Homo sapiens: one gene and its partners. The protein of the gene in region 2 purifies or fractionates together with the protein of the main gene of each other region. This does not show direct contact. Each region holds a gene or a part of one and is shown on either strand. Other genes may lie near its edges.

The links.
Region 1: the proteins of UBXN2A (region 2) and MYL11 purify together in Homo sapiens (affinity purification with mass spectrometry, with the first as the bait; one large-scale study listed by BioGRID). This does not show direct contact.
Region 3: the proteins of UBXN2A (region 2) and PPP1R11 purify together in Homo sapiens (affinity purification with mass spectrometry; 4 studies listed by BioGRID and IntAct, with this or other methods). This does not show direct contact.

Annotation. Positions count from the first base shown.
Region 1 is NC_000016.10:30,373,476-30,377,601, forward strand, and holds the start of MYL11 (myosin regulatory light chain 11), read left to right. Parts: upstream 1-1,326; 5' UTR 1,327-1,382; coding exon 1,383-1,385; intron 1,386-2,344; coding exon 2,345-2,437; intron 2,438-2,669; coding exon 2,670-2,745; intron 2,746-2,947; coding exon 2,948-3,052; intron 3,053-3,144; coding exon 3,145-3,223; intron 3,224-4,126. UniProt on the Homo sapiens protein: Myosin regulatory subunit that plays an essential role to maintain muscle integrity during early development. Plays a role in muscle contraction.
Region 2 is NC_000002.12:23,946,086-23,951,048, reverse strand, and holds part of UBXN2A (UBX domain-containing protein 2A), read right to left. Parts: intron 1-4,963. UniProt on the Homo sapiens protein: Acts to repress the ubiquitination and subsequent endoplasmic reticulum-associated degradation of CHRNA3 by the STUB1-VCP-UBXN2A complex in cortical neurons.
Region 3 is NC_000006.12:30,065,973-30,069,997, forward strand, and holds the start of PPP1R11 (E3 ubiquitin-protein ligase PPP1R11), read left to right. Parts: upstream 1-1,225; 5' UTR 1,226-1,438; coding exon 1,439-1,507; intron 1,508-2,617; coding exon 2,618-2,726; intron 2,727-3,131; coding exon 3,132-3,334; 3' UTR 3,335-4,025. UniProt on the Homo sapiens protein: Atypical E3 ubiquitin-protein ligase which ubiquitinates TLR2 at 'Lys-754' leading to its degradation by the proteasome.

The sequences.
Region 1 (4,126 bases), on a different chromosome or scaffold from region 2:
GTCCCAGCTACTCGGGAGGCTGAAGCAGGAGAATCACTTGAACCCGGGAGGCGGAGGTTACAGTGAGCCAAGATCACGCCACTGCACTCCAGCCCGGATAACAAAACGAGACTTCATCTCAAAAAAAAAAAAAAAAAGTAGCTGGGCATGGTGGCGGGTGCCTGGAATCCCAGCTACTCAGGAGGCTGAGGCAGAAGTATCGCTTGAACCCAGAAGGCGGAGGTTGCAGTAAGCCGAGATCGCACCATTGCACTCCCACCTGGGTGACAAGAGCAAGACTCCATCTCAAAAAAAAAAAAAAAGAAAGAAAAGAAAAAAAAATTCCCCTCTCCTTGAAGGGAGGTAGGAGACCCACCTGATCCCTCAGCTTCCACAGATGGCTCTTTCTCACCACCCTCACACTTACACACACTTGACTATGAACTCCACCATGTGGGGGTGGAGGGATTGTGTCTGCCAAAGTACATCCACAAAGCCCAGCCTAGCACGTGGCACACTGTGTGTGTTCAATACATGTTTACTGGGTTTATTTTATTAATTTAAAATAGAGACGGGGGCCAGGCGCAGTGGCTCACACCTGTAATCCCAGCACTTTGGGAGGCCTAGGTGGATGGATCACCAGGTCAGAAGATTGAGACCACTCTGGCCGACACGGTGAAACCCTGTCTCTACTAAAAATACAGAAAAAAAAAATTAGCCTGGCTTCGTGGCACACCTATAATCCCAGCTACTCGGGAGGCCAAGATAGGAGAATCACTTGAACAGGGGAGGTGGAGGTTGCAGTGAACCGAGATCACACTACTGGCACTCTAGCCTGGGAGACAGAGCGAGACTGTCTAAAAAAAAAAAAAAGGGAGACAGGGGTCTCACTATGTTGCCCAGGCTGGTCCTGAACTCCTGGCCTCAAGCAATCCTCCTGCCTCAGCTTCCCAAAGTGCTGGGATTACAGGTGTGAACCACTGCACCCAGACGTTTACTGGGTTTAAATCTGAGCCCACCCCACTCAGGGGTACAGGATCTGGTTCATTTATCTCCCAGAATGATGCCTTGGGTTGCGTCCCCTCTAAACTCTGGCACATTCCAGCCCCTCTTTGGGAGAAAGAACATCTCTTCTTGCCCAGGCCCTAGTGAGACATGCATCGCAAGACATGCTCCCCCCTTCCTCCCCGCTGGGCTCCAGCTGCTGCCAGCCCTCCAAGAAAGGAGAGGCCCTGAGTTGGGCTATTTTGGTATCTGGGGTGGGCACCCGCAGGGCTAAGGTTACCTTGGTATGTTAAGGGCTCCCTGGGGCAGGACTATATAACCCCAGAGGGACTGCCCCATGCTGACTCCTTGCTTCTTTCCAGCCGGAGCCGCTGCCTTGCCCCCCGGAGACTGAAGACATGGTGAGTGAGAATCCTCCAACCCCTGCCCAGATCCCTTAGACCTCAGGGCAGCCTCACCCTTTGAAAGAAAGTAGCTGGTTCCCAGTCCAACAAAAAGTTAAAAGGATGCTCATCTCTTTCTCGGCATCACTGATGGAAAACAGACTGTGTGATGGCCTAAAGGATCCAATCAATGATAATCCGCCCAGACATTCAACTCACAGGGGCCCAGTCCCTCTCAAAGCCTGATCCATTCATTCCTGTACTCCATCTTCCTAAGGCCCTCTGGCACCAGCCAGGCAATAACTCCCATCCCATTTTACAAATGAGAAAGTAGAGGCTCAGGCCAGGTGCTGTGGTTCACGCCTGTAATCCCAGCACTTTGGGAGGCCAAGGTGGTTGGATCACTTGAAGCCAGGAGTTCGAGACCAGCCTGGCCAACAGGCGAAACCCCGTCTCTACTAAAAATACAAAAATTAACTGGGCGTGGTGGTGCATGCCTGTAATCCCAGCTACTACGGAGGCTGGGGCATAAGAATCGCTTGAACCCGGGAGGCAGAGGTTGCGGTAAGCCGAGATCGCAGCACCGCACTCCAGCCTGGGTGACAGAGCAAGACTCTGTCTCAAAAAAAAAAAAAAAAAGAAAAGAAAAGTAGAGGCTCAAACAGGGCAAATGAGTGGCTGGGGTCACACAGCAAGTCTGAGGCTCAGAGGAGCTAGGCTCAGGACACTGAGAAGATAAGGAAGCTTCCACCCATTGTGGGGGATGGAGAGTTGGAGACCCAGGAGCCACAGACGGGAATTTGGGGAATGCAATCAAAGCAAGCCCCCTCAGCAAAGAGGTCCCAAGGAAGGGGAGACTCAGGCCAAAGGGCTGCTTTAGGAACAGGGACTCGAAGAATTCTGACTCTTAATCCATTGCCCCCAGAGAGGTGGAGGGACTGGTCCATGGGCCCCTTTGTTCAACCCTCACCCTCCAGGCACCCAAGAGGGCCAAGAGAAGGACAGTAGAGGGCGGAAGCTCCAGCGTCTTCTCCATGTTCGACCAGACTCAGATCCAGGAGTTCAAAGAGGTGGGTGAGGGGACGGGGAAACTGGAAGGCTGACCAAAAGCAGCCCTGCTGGCCCTCTCCCTGGAATGTGCACCTGCTTGAAGGAGGGGAAAGGTTTAGAATTCCTTCCTCCCCTCTCTGCTTGGGGTGGAAGAGGACAGTTGGCTGAGAGCCAGCATCTGATCCTCCTGGGGTAGGGATGCTGAGGCTGGGCCATGGGGGACCTAACCCTCCCCACCACGGCCCTCCCCAGGCCTTCACTGTGATCGACCAGAACCGTGATGGTATTATAGACAAGGAGGACCTTCGGGACACCTTCGCAGCCATGGGTGAGCCCCCTACCCCCAGGTGGGAATATTCAAGGCTGCAGAGTCTAGGAAATTCAGTGGCCTTGGGTTCCAGCCCTGTCAGCTCCACCTTGGGCCTCAGTCTACCCAGCTGAAAAATGAATGGGATCAGCTGAATTAGTGGGAAGCGCAGGCCCGGCCCCAGGAGCCTGCTCCAGCCCATGCTTCCCCCAACCCCCTCCAGGCCGCCTCAATGTGAAGAATGAGGAGTTGGATGCCATGATGAAGGAAGCCAGCGGTCCCATCAACTTCACCGTCTTCCTGACCATGTTCGGGGAGAAGCTCAAGGGTGAGTGGAGTGTCCTGGGTCCAAGGCCCCGGCTGCCTTTTCCCAGACCCTTCAGGGACCCATCAGCTTCATGTGCCCTCTGACCCCCACAGGTGCCGACCCTGAGGATGTGATCACCGGAGCCTTCAAGGTCTTGGACCCTGAGGGAAAGGGCACCATCAAGAAGAAGTTGTAAGCATCGGCTCCCCCACCCTTCCGACCCTTCCCCCACTCCACCAGCTGCTCCCACACTGACAGCCTCCTTAAATTTCTACCAAGGCTGGGCCCTGTGGCTCAGGCCTATAATCCCAGTGCTTTGGGAGGCAGAGGCAGGAGGATTTACTTGAGGACAGGAGTTTGAGATCAGCCTGGATAACACAGCATGACCCTGTTTCTAAAAACTTAACTAAAAAATTCGTGGGCTGGCCGGGCACAGTGGCTCATGCCTGTAATCCCAGCACTTTGGGAGGCCAAGGCGGGCGGATCATGTGAGGTCAGGAGTCCAAGAACAGCCTGGCCAACACGGTGAAACCCCGTCTCTACTAAAAATACAAAAATTAGCTGGGCGTGGTGGCGGGCGCCTGTAGTCCCAGCTACTAGGGAGACTGGGACATGAGAATCGCTTGAACCCTGGAGTCGGAGGTTGCAGTGAGCCAAGATCACGCCACTGCCCTCCAACCTGGGCGACAATAGCAAAACTCCGTCTCCAAAAAAAAGAAAAAAAAAAATTCGCGGGAGTGGTGGCAAACACCTATAGTCCCAGCTACTCCGGAGGCTGAGGCAGGAAGATCCCTTGAGCCCAAGAGTTCCAGGTTGCAGTGAGCCGTGATCAAACCACTGCATTCCAGCCTGGGCGACAGGGTGAGACCCTGTCTCAAAACAAACAAAAACCCAAAAATTCCTACGAAGGGTTAGGCACTGCCAGAGGTAAGGGAGTAGTTAAGATTGTGGTAATGGGCGGTAAGATTGCATTTTCACAGCAAATGTGGGCGGAGAGGGCAAAAGCGAGTGTCTGGGAGGCCAATGAAGGAAGTAGAGTGACCTGGGTTTTCAGGGGAGGCTGGGGCTGGCATCGGGGATGAGGTGCGAGGGAGT
Region 2 (4,963 bases):
ATAAGTACTGAAACACCACAATGTATCCCATAAATATATAAAATTATTGTCAACTAAAAAATAATGAATAGGCCAGGCATGGTGGCTCATGCCTGTAATCCTAGCACTTTGGGAGGCCAATGTGGGTGGATCACCTGAGGTCAGGAGTTCGAGACCAGCCTGGCCAACACGGCGAACCACGCATGGGTGTGGTGGCGCATACCTGTAATCCCAACTACTCGGGAGTCTGAGGCAGGAGAATCGCTTGAACCCGGCGGGTGGAGGTTGCAGTGAGCCAAGATCGTGCCACTTCACTCCAGCCTGGGCGTAAGAGCAAAACTTCATCTCAAAAAATAAAATAAAATAGGCCAGGCGCAGAGGCTCATGCCTGTAATCCGAGCACACTGGAAGACCGAGGTGGGCGGATCACTTGAGGTCAGGAGTTCGAGACCAACCCAGCCAACATGGTGAAACCCCATCTCTACTAAAAATACAAAAAATTAGCCAGGCATGGTGGAGGGCGCCTGTAATCCCAGCTACCAAGAGGCTGAGGTGGGAGAATTGCTGGAACCCAGGAGTCGGAGGTCGCAGTGAGCCAAGATCATGCCACTGCACTCCAGCGTGGACAACAGAGCGAGAATCCGTCTCAAAAACAGTAATAATAATAATAAAATAAAAATAAAATAAAATATTTCCATAGTTTAGATCTGGTCTTCATTATCTCAAAAGCATAACATGTTCATTCTACTACTTTGTTCACATTGTAATCATCGTCCTAGGCATTCAAATCCTAACTATCCTTTAAGTCCCAGCTCAAGATCCATTTCCACCATAAAGATGAAATATTAGACCCTTAGTAATAGTCTCCTCCTAAGCATTTAGATTTTTGGCATTTAAATCATATTGTGTGATATTGCTTATTACTGTTTCTTTTCACTCTCTTTACCAGATCTGACATCGCTGAGGATAAGTACCATGACTTACACATTTCCTGTATCCTTCACAGTGTGCAGCAAGTGCAAAGCAAAGAGTAGCGATCCTTGGGGTGGGGGTGGGGGTGGGGGTGGGGGGATGATGAGAAATTATTCCAGTGATGGATACATTAAAAGCTCTGACTTTACTACTGTACAATATATCCATGTAACAAAATTATACTTGTACCCCACACATTTATACAAATAATTTTTTTTTTTTTGAGACAGAGTCTTGCTCTGTTGCCCAGGCTAGAGTGCAGTGGTGAGGTCTCAGCTTACTGCAACCTCCGCCTCCTAGGTTGAAGTGATTCTTCTGCCTCAGCCTCCCAAGTAGCTGGGATTACTGGCATGTGCCACCATGCCTGGCTAATTTTTGTATTTTTAGTAGAGACAGCGTTTCACCACATTGGCCAGGCTGGTCTCAAACTACTGACCTCAGGTGATCCTCCTGCCTTGGCCTCCCAAAGTGCTAGAATTATAGGCATGGGCAACCACGCCCGGCTATAAATAAACTTATTTTTATTTTTATTATTTATTTATTTATTTTTGAGATGAAGTCTTGCTCTGTTGCCCAGGCTGGAGTGCAACCTCTACCTCCTGGGTTCAAGTGATTCTGCTGCCTCAGCCTCCCGAGTAGCTGGGGACTACAGGCATGTGCCACCACGCCCGGCTAATGTTTTGTATTTTTAGTAGAGACAGGGTTTCGATGTGTTAGCCAGGATGGTCTCCATCTCCTGACCTCATGATCCGCCCACCTCGGCCTCCCACAGTGCTGGGATTACAAGCGTGAGCCACCATGCCTGGCAAATAAATTTCTTCTAAAAGCTACAAGAGGGTTGGGTGTGGTGGCTCATGCCTGTAATCCCGGCACTTTGGGAGGCCAAGGCAGGCGGATCACCTGAGGTTAGGAGTTCAAGACCAGCCTGGCCAACATGGTGAAACTCCGTCTCTACTAAAAATACAAAAAAAAAAAAAAAAAGAAAAAAAAATAGCCAGGCTTGGTAGCACACGCCTGTAGTCCCAGCTACTTGGGAGGCTGAGGCAGGAGAATCACTTGAACCAGGGAGATGGAGGTTGCAGTGAGGGGAGATCACGCCAATGTGCTCTAGTCTGGGTGACAGAGATTCTGTCTCAAAAAAAAAAAAAAAAAGCTACAAGAGAAGTCTTACTTAAAGGATTTCACTGAGTTTCCAGTAATAGGTTATTGTTCTCTAGGAAATTACAAATACTTTTTTCCATCATTTTACAGTTATAAGGTACTGACAAATTGCTTTTACTTGTTTTATGACAGCAAAAGAGAATGAAGATAGAATAGACCTCAAATTCAAACTGAGTTTTACTGGAATACTGGCTACATCACTTTTGAGCTAGGTGACCTTGTATATGTTATTTAGCTTCTCTGAGTCCCAGCTGCCTAACTTATAGCATGGACATAATTATCCCCCTCAGGTTGTTCTGAGGACTGAAGATACTAAGAATACAACAGTGTTATACTCCTTTTTCTTTCCTCATCCCCCACCATAATCTGTTATAGAGATTGGTAAGAAACATCTTCAAGCTCACGCCTGTAATCCCAGCACTTTGGGAGGCCGAGGTGGGCAGATCGCCTGAGATCAGGAGTTTGAGACCAGCCTGGCTAACATGGTGAAACCCTGTCTCTACTAAAAACACAAAAATTAGCCAGGCATGGTGGCGCATGCCTGTAATCCCAGCTACTTGGGAGGCTGAGGCAGGAGAATCACTTGAATTGGGAGGTGGAGGTTGCAGTGAGCCGAGATCACGCCACTGCACTCTAGCCTGGGCAACAAGAGTGAGACTCTGTCTCAAAAAAAAAAAAAAAAGAAAAAGAAAAAGAAACATCTTCAGACTTAATCTAAAAAGTCCTAATTTTGACATGATTATGAAATTTTACTTTTGATTTCACGAATTAAACTTTTTAAAAGCCCGGCACAGTTGCTCACGCCTGTAATCCCAGCACTCTGGGAGGCTGAGGCGGGCGGATCACCTCAGGCCAGGAGTTCTAGACCAGCCTGGCCAACATGATGAAACCCTGTCTCTATTAAAAACACAAAAATTAGCCGTGCATGGTGGTGGGCACCTGTAATCTCAGCTACTTGGGAGGCTGAGGCAGGAGAATCACTTGAAGCTGGGAGGAGGAGGTTGCAGGGAGCTGAGCCCCCGCCATTGCACTCCAGCCTGGGCAACAAGAGCAAAACTCCATCTCAAAAAAACAAAAACTTAAAAAAAAATGTTTTATATACTTATTGAACCACCCACCAATGTGTGCAAGCCACTGATTTAAAACTAATGACAAAAGTGTCAGTATCAGTATGACAGTTTCTAGTAGCACAATTTTATGGACTAATAAGGAAAAAACAAACTGAATTACTAATTGTAAGCATGGCATAGAATTATGATGTAAAAATTAATTTTAACATGGAGACACCACAAAGTCACCATTACCGCAGTCATTTTCTATCATAAATTTAGTAACATGCAAATGAACCAACTAAAATTTATTTATATCAATTGAGTGAGCTGCTACAAATGTATCACAGTCATATGACATGAATGAACCTAAGTCATGTACTATACTGCAGAGAATAAAAAAAGCCATCTGACAAATATCCAAGTTATCAGCATAAAGTTGGCACAAGAATGAACAGATGAAAAGAACTGCCTTCATTTTTCTTCGGTCTACTTCCAACTATCACCATCATCTTACATTGATATAGCATATCACAGTTTACCGAACATCTTCTCAAATACTATCCCAAAAAGTGCAGTGATGAAATCAATCAGGAGACAGAGAAGACTGAGTTTTATGGAACATGTCCACTAACAGGAAAGGCCAGTCAAAATAGATTTGGACTACTAAGAATGTGGTATTTTAAAATGCTTACGTTAGGCCAGGCACAGTGGTGCACCCCTGTAATCTCAGCACTTTAGGAGGCTCAGGTGGTGGGAATCTCTTGATGCTAGGAGTTCAAGATCAGCCTAGGCAACACAGTGAGACCCTGTCACTACTACAAATAAGAACATTAGCCAGGCATCATGGCAAACGTCTGTAGTCCTGGCTAGTCAGGATGCTGAGGCAGGAGAGTTGCTTGAGTCCAGGAGTTTAAGGCTGCAGTGAACTATAATTGTGCCACTGAATTTCAGCCTGGGTAAGAGTGAGACCCTGTCTCAAAAAAAAAAAAAAAAAAAATTAATAAATTGGGAGTCTGAGACTCTTCTGACTTGGGAGACTGTCTGATTTCTTTTTTAAAATCTATAAACAAAAATTTAAAATAAGTGTATAAGAATCTGAATATAAAAACTACATCTTAAGAATTAAATAGGGCTGGGTGCGGTGGCTCATGCCTGAATCCCAGCACTTTGGGAGGCTGAGGCAGGTGGACCACTTGAGGTCAGAAGTTCAAGACCAGCCTGGCCAATATGGTGAAACTCCATCTCTACTAAAAATACAAAAATTGGCCAGGCATGGTGGCTCATGCCCGTAATCTCAGCTCTTTAGGAGGCTGAGGCGGGTGGATCACGAGGTCAGGAGATGGAGACCATCCTGGCCAACATGGTGAAACCCCGTCTCTATTAAAATACAAAAAAAAATAGCCAGGTATAGTGGCGTGCGCCTATAGTCCCAGCTACTCAGCAGGCTGAGGCAGGGGAATCGCTTGAACCCAGGAGGCGGACATTGCAGTGAGCCGAGATCACGCCACTGCACTCCAGCCTGGTGACAGAGTGAGTAAAAAAAAAAAACAACAAAAAACAAAAATTAGCCAGGCATGATGGCACACGCCTGTAGTCCCAAGCTACTCAGGAGGCTGAGGCGGGAGAATCGCTTGAACCCGGAAGCAAAGGTTGCAGTGAACTGAGATTGCACTACTGCACTCCAGCCTGGATGTCGAAGTGAAACTCTGTCTAAAAATAAATAAATAAATAAATAAACAAAAGAATTAAATGTGGCTGGACACAGTGGCTCATGCCTGTAATCCCCACACTTTGGGAGG
Region 3 (4,025 bases), on a different chromosome or scaffold from region 2:
TGTGTGGCCCTTTATATATATTCAGAGCTCTCAAACATAGCTATCTTGTTTGACCCCCACAGCAACCTGGAGAATGGGCAGGGCAGTCTTCCCCACTGTACGTTTGAACTGTTCTGGCAGTTGACTTTCCTGACCCACTCCTGAAATCTGAAACAAACCTGTTCATGTTTCTACCCTACTTTAAGCCTTTCTCTGGCCCATAACAGTGATTGGATTAAGCTTAATTTCTTAGCAAAGCATACAGGTTCTTCCATATAACCACTGCCTACCTGTCAAGCTTCATCTGGCACTCCCTCAGATCCAAGCGGTACAAAACTCCATTTCCTGTAGTGCACACATCTACAACTTTTTAAGCTGCTCTTCTAAAAAAACCTACTTGTCGGCCTTCCTGGTTCTTGTTTTACCACTTTCTTTTGCTCTCTAAGAAACGTGCATATATTTTTATAAAATAGCCTATACTGTAATTTACGACCATTTCTCTGCTTCATCCTACTCATCACCCCAGAGAGAACGAATATGTTGGCAGTATGTAACTACATTCAGATTTACAAATCAGACATGGCATTTGTTAATGCCCCAGTGTTTCATATTTTTGTTAGTTTTCAGCATGCCTGTCTTTCCTACTAGAGCTAAAAGGCAGGGTCTGAGCGTCTTACGCGCCTCCATCTTCAAGGCGTAGCACAGTGACTGAAAAAAACTGACGTTGAACGTGCACTAAACTGAACTGCTCAAACACCTACAGGCACAGGGCGAGGGGTAGAACCACATCGCTTGACTCTTAAGTGTGTTTCCAACTGCTCCCACTTCCCGTTTTCTTTAGAGAAACCCAGACCAAACAAGGAAAGGGAAATAGGCCACGGTAGGGTCATTACTATTGCTCCTTAAGCTTCCTCGCCGGTCCACCTACCCAGACAAGGCAAACGGAAATCTGCAGCAGGACTCAGCTTGGTGCACACAACTCCGCCCTCGCCACACCCACTCTGCAGCGTCTGGCCCGGCAATACCCATCTGGGCGCCCCTCCTGCTTCCTCTAGGCTGTGAGTACGCGTGCTGCCCCAGACTCTCCCTCCTCCACCCACACCCGCAGTGACACCCCTTCCGCCAAATTTGTTTCTCTTTCTTTCAGCGCCTGCGCGCTGTCACGTTACGGCGGAACTAATCCAGCGACGCCTGCGCTTTGACGCATTTGGTGCCGTGGAAGGGAAAAAGGGGGACTGCAGTATGCGTCACACCCGGAAGCGGCGAGCCGGAAGTGGGGTTAGCCAGGTTATCCCCAGGGGTGGAGAAGCGGAGGCCCAGGAGGAGGGGGAATAAAGAAGGTGGAGGATCCTGGCTACCACTCTGAATCCGATACCGCTTCTCTTAGACCTCAGCGACAGAAAAAGGGAAGGGTGTCTCATCCCCCTTCCTCCTCTCCTCCCTGTCCTGAGCCTTAGCCATGGCCGAGGCAGGGGCTGGGCTGAGCGAGACCGTCACTGAGACAACGGTTACCGTGACAACCGAGCCCGTGAGAAAGGCGGGGGGGCGGTGCTGTTTAGGGGTCTGGGAGATACTGGGAGGGAGGGGACAGGGATTAGAAGAGTTGTTGGAGGAGCTAGGCCTAGGGATATGGGAGGTGTGGGGTTGAATATCTAGGGCTGGGAGAATCGGAAGGTATTGGAGCTATTTGGAGTGGCAGAGATGGTGCAGGAGGCAGGTCAAGGAACTTGTAATAGGGAGGTACAGTTAGGATATAGGTGTTGCTGCTTGGGGTGGTTATGTGTGTAAGTAATAAACGAAAGGGAAATTGAGGATTAAGGAGCCAGGAAGATGTTGGGAGGAAATCAAAGGTAGTGTAAGAAAGCATGGTTGGAGGCCAACTTATCAATATTATCAATATTGATATTCGAATAAATATTTATTGAATGGATGAATGTAAAAGGAAGTGGCAGGAATGAGGAAACAAGAAAAGGAGATGAAAAGAGGTATTTTGAGAAATCAGAGAGCAAAGATGTAAATGGAGAAACAAGAAGTATTTATCCAAAAACATGTTAAGTTGCCTTCAAAGGGAGAAGGTTGCATTGGGCTTAATACTCTTGGATTAAAGGAAGTTTAGTAATTAATAGATTAGTAATACTTGCTACTAGAGATGCCAGGATGCCAGAGAATAGGTGGATAAGAGGTAGGGAGGGCTGGAGCTTGAGAATGAGAGAGGTTTTGTTTGTTTTTTTAAGAGAAAAAGAATAGGGGATCTGGAAAAAGGAAGGGAGATCAAAGATTAGGTGCTGGGGACTGAAAAATAATTTTCATGTATTAATACTACCAAGGATGATTTGGGGAGGAAGACGGAGAAACAGCAAGGATTATATTTTCCTTTGAAGAGTTGCTGGGACCTTTCCTAGGTTAGGAATTGTGTCTTCTCTTATACTGGTGGTATAAGAACAGGAAATAATACTTATTCCTCAAGGGACTATCTGAGGTAAAAGACCTGTTCTGTTTTATCTTCTGTCAGCTCCTCTGGTGCTATGCCTATGGTACTGATTGAGCTAAAGAAGAAAAGAGAGGAGGTTCCCTGGGAGGGAGTGGGAAAGGTTAGTAAGAGGGGACTAGATAGGTATGCTCATCCTTAACCTTCTAGGAGAACCGGAGCCTTACCATCAAACTTCGGAAACGGAAGCCAGAGAAAAAGGTAGAATGGACAAGTGACACTGTGGACAATGAACACATGGGCCGCCGCTCATCCAAATGTGAGTAATTGTTGGCCCGCAGTAGCCCTGGAGTTCTGGCTCCCTTCAGCATATCTTGTATCTACTCATATCCACTGGCTTTCCAGAAGCCCCCAGATGTTCATAGTTCTGTCACTTTTTTGGTGGTGCTGTGGTATCAGGGAAAGAGGTAGGGAAGGGCTAGAACTGGAATTGCCTAGGTCTGACAGCAAGAAGTGTCAGAGGTGGGAGAAGTGGGGCTTTGAATTCGTGGCTCTCTAAGAGGACAAGAGGGGTGGGGCCTGAGTCCCAGAGGGTGGGCCTGGGGAAGCTGGATCCTGGAAGGTAGGAGAAAATAGGAATTTTCACTGAGTTTGAGTGGGAATGGAACTGACTATATATCTTACCCTTCCTCCTCTTTAACTGGGCTCCTCCCTCTAAATCTAGGCTGCTGTATTTATGAGAAACCTCGGGCCTTTGGCGAGAGCTCCACGGAAAGTGATGAGGAGGAAGAAGAGGGCTGTGGTCATACACACTGTGTACGTGGCCACCGCAAAGGACGGCGTCGTGCAACCCTAGGACCGACCCCCACCACCCCTCCCCAGCCTCCTGACCCTTCCCAGCCCCCTCCAGGGCCAATGCAGCACTAAATCCCTCTCTCCTCCAGCATTCCTGTGTCTGTCTGGCCCTAAATGTATCCATGTGGCTACTTCTCCAGCCCCCTCCTTCCCTCTCTTCTGCCTGATAGAGGGAAGAGGAAGAGGAGGACGAACAGAGATCCTGAAATTCTGACTTGCTGCTATTCCAGAACCCAGCCTCCTGGGTTTCCCCAGTCCTCATTTTTCCTCCCAATACCCACCCTTCTCTCTCGAGGGATCTAGGCACCTTGGTCCCAGTGTCTTCCTTTTGTTCTCACTGCCAAACTGCCTGTCCTGGGATCTAGTTATCTTGGCCCTGCACTCTCAACATGAGTAGCGAACACTTAAATTGGGTTTTCAACAGTCCCAGCTTTCACTGCCAGGGTCCCAGTCAGATTCCAGGAATTTGCGCCCTAACTTTGCTTGCTAATCCTGGTTTAGAGCTATCCCACTAAAATATTTAATCCTAATTCTTAGTCCTTGCCTGTGAGATATGAGGTCTTACAGGAGACCTCAGAGCTCCCAGCCCTTCTCCTCCTGCTAACCCTTCTCACACCCTCAAGAGGAGTTAGAAAAGAGGTCCTTGTCATTCTCACCTCTTATGGAAAATGGAATAAGAAATAATCATATCCTTTCTTCCCACCCTTCTCCTGTTATTTAGGATTTCTGACAAAGCTGGCTTGAGATTGGTCACTTAGAGCCG